Homo sapiens: one gene and its partner. Changing the gene in region 2 together with the main gene of any one other region gives a genetic interaction. Each region holds a gene or a part of one and is shown on either strand. Other genes may lie near its edges.

What was found. Genes that interact genetically often act in the same process or in processes that back each other up.
Region 1: changes in PPP2R1A (region 2) and WDR7 together harm fitness more than expected from each alone (negative genetic interaction), as found in Homo sapiens cells (one large-scale study listed by BioGRID).

What each region holds. Positions count from the first base shown.
Region 1 is NC_000018.10:56,657,512-56,661,360, forward strand, and holds part of WDR7 (WD repeat-containing protein 7), read left to right. Parts: intron 1-3,849.
Region 2 is NC_000019.10:52,192,926-52,196,774, forward strand, and holds part of PPP2R1A (serine/threonine-protein phosphatase 2A 65 kDa regulatory subunit A alpha isoform), read left to right. Parts: intron 1-3,849. UniProt on the Homo sapiens protein: The PR65 subunit of protein phosphatase 2A serves as a scaffolding molecule to coordinate the assembly of the catalytic subunit and a variable regulatory B subunit.

The DNA.
Region 1 (3,849 bases), on a different chromosome or scaffold from region 2:
CACTTTTTGAAGAATTAATAGTCTTACATATGTGCATGCCATTGATCATAGGCAAAATCAGCTGAGAGCTATGGATAGCTCAGTGAAATTCTGCCATCAATAAGAGGACATGTTCTCACTGACAGGTACTATGATAGTAATGTTAACTTACAATTTGAATTCCATCCATATGGTTCGTTTGTCTTTGTCTGTATCTGATTCTTAAAGCTGCTTTGCTGAATACAAAAGAACACAAACAATTATGTTGGAAGAAGAAATCCTACATCATGACTGCATTCAGAAAGTCCTTGTGAGTCCAAGGAAATTTTTACTTCCTTTCTATTAAGGAACATATATATTACATTCATGAAGTATTTACTATTTTAAATAAAATTGGATTTTTTTTCAAACTATGTTGGTGACGTTTAATGAAATTACAGGGGTTTTTTTTTTTGGCTGTTGATTACTTGAGTTAGTGGGAGCCATAAAATGTTGGAACAACGAATGTTAGGGCACTGGTCAGTTTAGGGGAGGGAAGATTTCTGAAGTGCTAAGCGTTATTCTGTAGGCTCTTTAAAATATAACATTTCTGGAGATATGTGACTTTGTTTTTTTGTTTTGTTTTGTTTTTGACACAGAATCTCGCTCTGTCGCCCAGGCTAGAGTGCAGTGGTATGATCTCGGCTCACTGCAACCTCTGCCTCCCCGGTTCAAGCAATTTTTCTGCCTCAGCCTCCCAAGTAGCTGGGATTACAGGTGTGCACCACCACACCCAACTAATTTTTGTATTTTTATTAGAGACAGGGTTTCACCATGTTGGCCTGGCTGGTCTCAAACTCCTGACCTCAAGTGATCTGCCTGCCTCGGCCTCCCAAAGTACTGGAATTAGTCATGAGCCACTGCGCCCAGCCTGGAAATACATGACTTTGAAAATGCAGTCTCCCATTCAGCTTAGCAGTTGTAATTTATGACCCTACAAGCTCACTGAAGATAGTTTTTTGCACATCATGTTTCTCTCTGAATGTTGGTAGTTGGTATATGTCAGTGATAACAGACTGATAGAGTGAGCCAGTTACCTTCTGTTTTCACATTCAAGTTTATTTCACATTTAAGCTATCTTCCTTAAAGGCTCTTCTTTTTTCTAAATGTTTCAAATACAAATAAACAGTATAAACTTCCATTAGTTGGAGCAAAAAATTCACACGAATGAAATATCACTGTACTTACTTACTTTTTTTTAACGACAGAGTCTCACTCTGTTGCTCAGACTGGAGTGCAGTGGCATGATCTTGGCTCACTGCAACCTCCACTTCCTGGGTTCAAGCGATTCTCCTGCCCCAGCCTCCTGAGTAGCTGGGACTACAGGCGTGCACCACTGTGCCCAGCTAATTTTTGTATTTTTTTTTTAGTAGAGATGGGGTTTCACCATGTTGGCCAGGCTGGTCTTGAACTCCTGATCTTGTGATCTGCCAGCTTTGGCCTCCCAAAGTGCTGGGATTATAGGCTTGAGCCACCGCGCCCGGCCCCCTGTACTTACTTTTAAGAAACAGTGTTGTGATTAATTACTAGGCCTTAGTGACTGTAGTAGTGATTATGTCAGCTAATTTGCTTCATAGGCCCTAAGATATATTTTGCTGTGTATATGTCACGATAGACTAAAAGAGGCAGGAGCGTAGGTAAAACCTGTAGCTGGGGAAAAAAACAATATGTTAATGACATTTTGATTAAGGAGGCTTGTATTAATTGTTGACATTATTATAGAAGAACTAGTTGACAAGAAACTGCCCTGTGAAATCCAAAACATATAAAATCGGGATATACTTTAATTTGCTGATGGGTGCAACTTTACTTAAACCAACGCAAACATATTTCATTCACTAGTTTGTTTATTTATTCAAGTATTTGGATTCCTTCTATGTGGAAGGAATTTTAGGCACTGGGAATACAATAGAGAAGAAACCAAACACAGATCTTTACCATCATAGAACATACACCAGGAGAGGCAGATGATAAATAAATAAAACATATGGTATGTTAAATGATTGTAAGTGTTTAGTTTGAGTGGTAGATTTTGCAATTTATGATGGTCAGGAAACTCTTCACTAAAAAGGTAATATTTTATAGAGATTTGAAGAGGGCAAAGGAGTGTGCCAGAAGGAATCTGGGGTGGGGGACACTGTTCTGAGGTAAGATTCTGTTTAGTATCTTTGAGCAACACCAATGAATCAGAGCAGATGGAAAAGAGTAAGCAAGGGAGAGAACAACCACCTCACTCATATAGGATAGGCAGTTGTATGTAGAGTTGGCTTTTGCTATGTGTGAGACAGGAAGCCATTGGAAGATTTTGAGATGTGATCACAGCATGATTTTTTTTTTTAATAGTGTCACTCTATATGCTGTGTTGAGACTGCAGGGGAGCAAAGATGGAAACAGGGAGACCAGTTAGAGGGCTGTTGTGTTATCCCTGATGGAAGATGCTGATTGAGAATAGGGTGGTTGTAGTGAAAGTGTTGAGATGTTGCAGGATTCTGGATATGATTTGAAGGTATAGCCAGTGGAGTTTACTGATGGATTGGGATGTGGAATGTGTATGTGTGAGAGAGTAATAGAGTAACTAAAGATGATTCTAGGATTTTGGTCTGTGTAGCTATAAAACTGGAGTTGCCAATAACTAAGATGGGTAGACTGTGGGAGGGGCACCATTGAGGAATGATCAGGGGCTCACTTTTGGACATGCCAAGTTTGAGAAACTTATTAGCTATCCAAAAGGAGATGTTGAGTAGGAAGCTGGACATACTGATTTGGATTTCAGAAAAGCATCCCACACAATAAACTGGGGAACTGTCAAAATCTGCAATCCAAAATGCTCCAAAATCCAAAACTCTTGAGCATAAACATGACACTCCAAAGAAATGCTCATTGGAGCATTTTGCATTTTAGATTTTTCAGATTAGAGATGCTCAACCTGTAAGTATAATACAAATATCCCCAAATTTGAAAAAAATCCAAAATCTAAAACACTTCTGATCCCAAGTGTTTCAGATAAAGGATACTCAACCTATAGATGGTTTAAAGCAATGAGGCTTGATGAGATCATTGAGGGAGGGAGTGTTGCCAGAGAAGAGAAGTCTAAGGACTAAGTTGTGGGAATGCCAATATTTAAAGGTTAAAAAAAAAAAAAAAGAAAGAAAAGAAAGAAAGGAGACTAAAGCTAGAGAAGAAGAAGGAAAGTCAGGAAAAAGTGAAGACTTTGAGGCCAGGTAAAGAAGTATTTATTTCAAAGACGGAATATGAACTATGTCAAATTGCTGGTAGGTCAAGTAAGATAAGGGTTAGAACTTGATAATGGATTTAACAGTGGGGAGGTCATTGGTGACCTTGTCAAGGGCAGTTTTTGTGACAGGCAGAGCAGGAGGAGGGTAATGTTACAAATGAGAAGTTTAACTTGAGACATCACATATTTCCTCAGAGTTTAAAATGGAAATGGAGAGCTGGGTTCCTCTCTAGTTAGTGTGACTTTCATACCTTCACAGTTGCCCATCTTATTTTAGTGATTCCAAGACTAATGTGACAATTCAGCTTCAAATTTGGGGAAGCATGTTTGTTTCTTCTTTTTCTGTTTAATTCAATTTATATACAACGAGAAAGTTCAGTGCTCAGTTTAGACTTTTGATGGCAACCTAAGGGAAGAAATTGGAATGACTGGAGATGCAAATGAGATTAGAGGTGGGTGGCAGGAGAAAGTCGAAGTTGGTTCAACCAAATGGAATTTCCTTTAAAAAGTAAGGTCTTGGTGGGCATAATGGGCTTTTAGCTTAATCAGTAACTCTTGAAATTGCTGTAGGTTGGTGATGGATACAGCATAAGCAG
Region 2 (3,849 bases):
AGTTGCATGGTTGTAACAGAGATGGCCGCAAAGCTTCAAATATTTGCTGTCTAACCCTTTGCAGGGAAAAAATTGCTGACCTCTGACTTAAACCATCTGCGTAACAAATTATTGGGTGCTTGCTCTATGTTAGGTACAGTACAGAGGAATATCACTGACGATCTTACTGAATTCTCACAATCACTCTTTGAAGTAGGTCCTGTCCTTGTCCACATTTTCCAGATGAGGAAACTGAAGCACCATAAATAACATGGCCAAAGCTGTGCAGCTGAGAAATGAAGGAGCCAGGAAAGGAAGTAGGACCTAAGGGTGGAATAGAATCTGGGGTGGGACACACGGTTGCTGATTATATTCATATGCCAGACATTTTAATTGTGTCTGAGACAGTTCAGGATACTAGAAGGAACATGGGACATGAAATCCTGTAGTCTTGATTTATTTGTTCAGCAAATATTTATCAGCACCTCCTGTGTGCCAGACTCTGTTTTAGATACTAGACATACAGTAGGGAACAAAACAGCAAAGCTGCCCTTGTGGGGTTTACATTCTGGTTTGGGAGACAGATAGTAGATCTGTAGTGGGATGTCAGTGGCAGTAATTGCTAAGAAGAAAAATTGCTGGACGTGGTGGCTCAAGCCTAATTGTAACACTTTGGTTTTATTTTATTTTATTTTTTTTGAGACAGAGTCTCACTCTGTCGTCCAGGCCGTCTCTGCTCATTGCAACCTCCGCCTCCCGGGTTCAAGTGATTCTCCTGCCTCAGCCTCCTGAGTGGCTAGGATTAGAGGCGCCCACCACCACATCCAGCTAATTTTTGTATTTTTAGTAGAGAGTGGGTTTCACCATGTTGGCCAGGCTGGTCTCAAACTCCCTGCCCGCCTCTGCCTCCCAAAGTGCTGGGATTACAGGCATGAGCCACCACCCCTGGCCAATTCTAGCACTTTGGAAGGCCAAGGTGAAAGGATCGCTTGAGCCCAGGAGTTTAAGACCAGCCTGGGCAACAAAGTGAGACCCTGTCTCTACCAAAAAAAAAAAAAAAATTAGCTGGTGTGATGACACAGGCCTTGGTCCCAGCTGCTCAGGAGACTGAGGTCGGAGGATTGCTTGAACCAGGGAGATCGAGGCTGCGGTGAGAGCCTGGGCGACAGCAAGACCCTGTCTCCAAAAAAAAAAAAAAAAAAAAAAAAGAACAAAATAAGACAGGTACAGGGAATAGAGCAAGCACCTGGGGCTGCTTTGTTAGATAGGGAGGTTAGAGAAAGCTGCTCTGAGGAAGTGATGTTGAACAAGGATTTGAATGAAATGAACAGGTCGTGGAAGAGCAGTCTGGGCAGAGGGAATAGTTGGTACAAAGGCCAGGAGTGGGAGGATGCTTGATGCGTTCAAAGCACAGCAAAAAGGCCAGTGTGACTGAGGCAGAGAGAATGGCAAAGTGGTGGGAGGTGAGGACTAGACCAGGACTAGATCAAGTGAGGCCTGTGGGCCAAGGTGAAGGCCTTGAAGATGGGAGGGAGGAGGAGGAATTGCAAGGCTTTCAGTAGTAATTATGGGTTCTGGTATAATTTTAAAGGATCCTTCCTCTGGCTGTCATAGGGGTTGGGCCCTGTTGAGGTGCCATTACAAAGCACCCAGGACCAGTGTTAGCATGCAGGGGGGAAGTATGGTTACAGTCAGGACATGTTGAGGGGGGCTGATGGGATTTGCTGGTGGGTAATGTAGAGGGAAGAGTTGAGGGTGACTGAAGTTTGAACCCCCGCTCTGCCAGTTGTGCTCTCTGTGTGCCCCTGGAGCAGTACTTTCCCCTCTTTGGACCCAGATTCCTCATCTGCAAAATGGGGATAATGATGAAGAATCAGCGTGTGCCTGGTTGTGAAGATGCAGTGAAATTGGCTTGCTCATTGTTCTGCGGTAGTCATATGGTGGGGATTGAGCAGACCTGAGGAAATGGGGCATCTGGGGAACCGTGTGGGACCAAGTCAGCAAGTGCTAAAGCCTGGGTTGGGAATACACTGGGCTGTTTGTTTTTTTGGTTACTATCAAGGAAGCAGTTGTGACAAGCCAGGCCCAGTGAGAATGGATCAGTAGACTAGGGTCAGATTGTGTTGGGCCTTGTAGGCCAGAGTAAGGCCTTAGCTTTTATTCTGAATGTGCAGGGAAAACATACTACATGTGGGATTATACCATATACATTCATATTATGGAAGGCTCCATGGGTTGAATGCAGGGTGGATCTTCAAAAGTGGGTCCCCTTTCCACAGGTGCATATAGTGGGAAGGCGGATTTTATTTATTAACTCACCACAGAGCAGGCTCTGTGCCGAGGCCTGCTGGGACACAGAGAGTCCCAGTCTAGGGTGGTAAGTGCTGTCATGGAACCATATGGGTGGACTCTTTGGAAAATCCCAATTCCTATTCTCTCACTTAACACAACAATCAACAACACAGAAGAAGACTTCCGTGACTAAATGTGTGTTGGGGTGGGGAGGGATTCTTCACCACCACTAAGCAAGCATTCAGTTCTGCAGCACACGCCAACTGGATGTCCTCCAATTCAGTTCAGACACGACCTGGAGACAGTGTTGGATCCAACAGGTTGAGGGCTCAGGCCTCAAAACTGCCCCTTGGCCCTCGCCTTCAGTTGCCATTCTGGGTCGTCAGAACTTCTGATCTACCTGCTTCAAGTTGGAGTTCCCATGACCACCCTGCCTTTGGGTTTGATTAATATGCTAGAGCAGCTCTCAGAACTCAGGGAAACATGTAAGTTTATCAGTTCATTATAAAGGATAGTATAAAGAATACAGATGAAGAGAGGCATAGGGTGAGCTATGGGGGAAGGGGTGTGGAGCTTCCATGCCCTTCTTGGGTGCACCACCCTCCAGGAACCTCTGTGTGTTCGGCTATGTTGAAGTTCCCAGGCCCTGTCCTTTTGGGTTTTTATAAAGGCATTGTTAGGTAGGCAGGATTGATTAAACCTGGTGATCACCTTGACCTTCAGCCCCTCTCCGATCCCTGGAGGTTGTGGGGTGGGACTGAAAATCCCAACCCTCTAATCATGCCTCTCTGTTTTCCATGACTATCTTTCCAGTGACCATGGACCCCATCCTGAAGGTATCAGTCAACATTAGCATACAAAAAGCGCCTTGGAGATTCCAAAGATTTGAGGAGTTGTATGCAAGGAAATGGGGATGAAGCCCAAATCTGTATCTCACAGTATCACAACTGTAGCAGGTGCTTGGTGGGGACACACTTGGGAGATAGTCAGTGCACAGGGAATTCTCAGGATATGACATGATCAATGGCCAGTCAAGGTTTCTGAAATGATATTAATAGATTTTCTATCAGGAATGTGACGGAGACCCCAACCTAGAGTTGTTTAAACAAGTAAGAGTTCTCTTTATTTCTCATATAGCAAGTTCAGCAGCTCAAAGCTATCACAGAATTGGGTCAGCTCAAAGATATCACAGAAATGCGGTTTTTTTGACTGGCCTGTTTTGGTTATAAGATTCCAGCAGCATCTGCTGTCCTAGTGGAACTGCACTTTTTAGTGCAGTTTAGCAGAGGCCAGCTTAGGACACAGAGGTTCTTTCCCTCCTCCCTTTTATGAAGGAGGAAAATCTCTCCTGAATCTCCTCAGCAGACTTGCTTGTATATCTCTTTGCCAAGAACTAGGTCATATGCAGAGTTAGTTGAAGTTAAGTTTGGCTGTAAGTAGTAGAAAAACTCTAAATAACAGGGGCTTAAATGAGCTTGAAGTTTCTATCTGACTGATGACCAAAATGTCTGGTGGCAATCCAGGCTGCTGTGGCACTTCATGGTGTCAGGGTCCCAGGCTCTTACCATTATGCGCTGG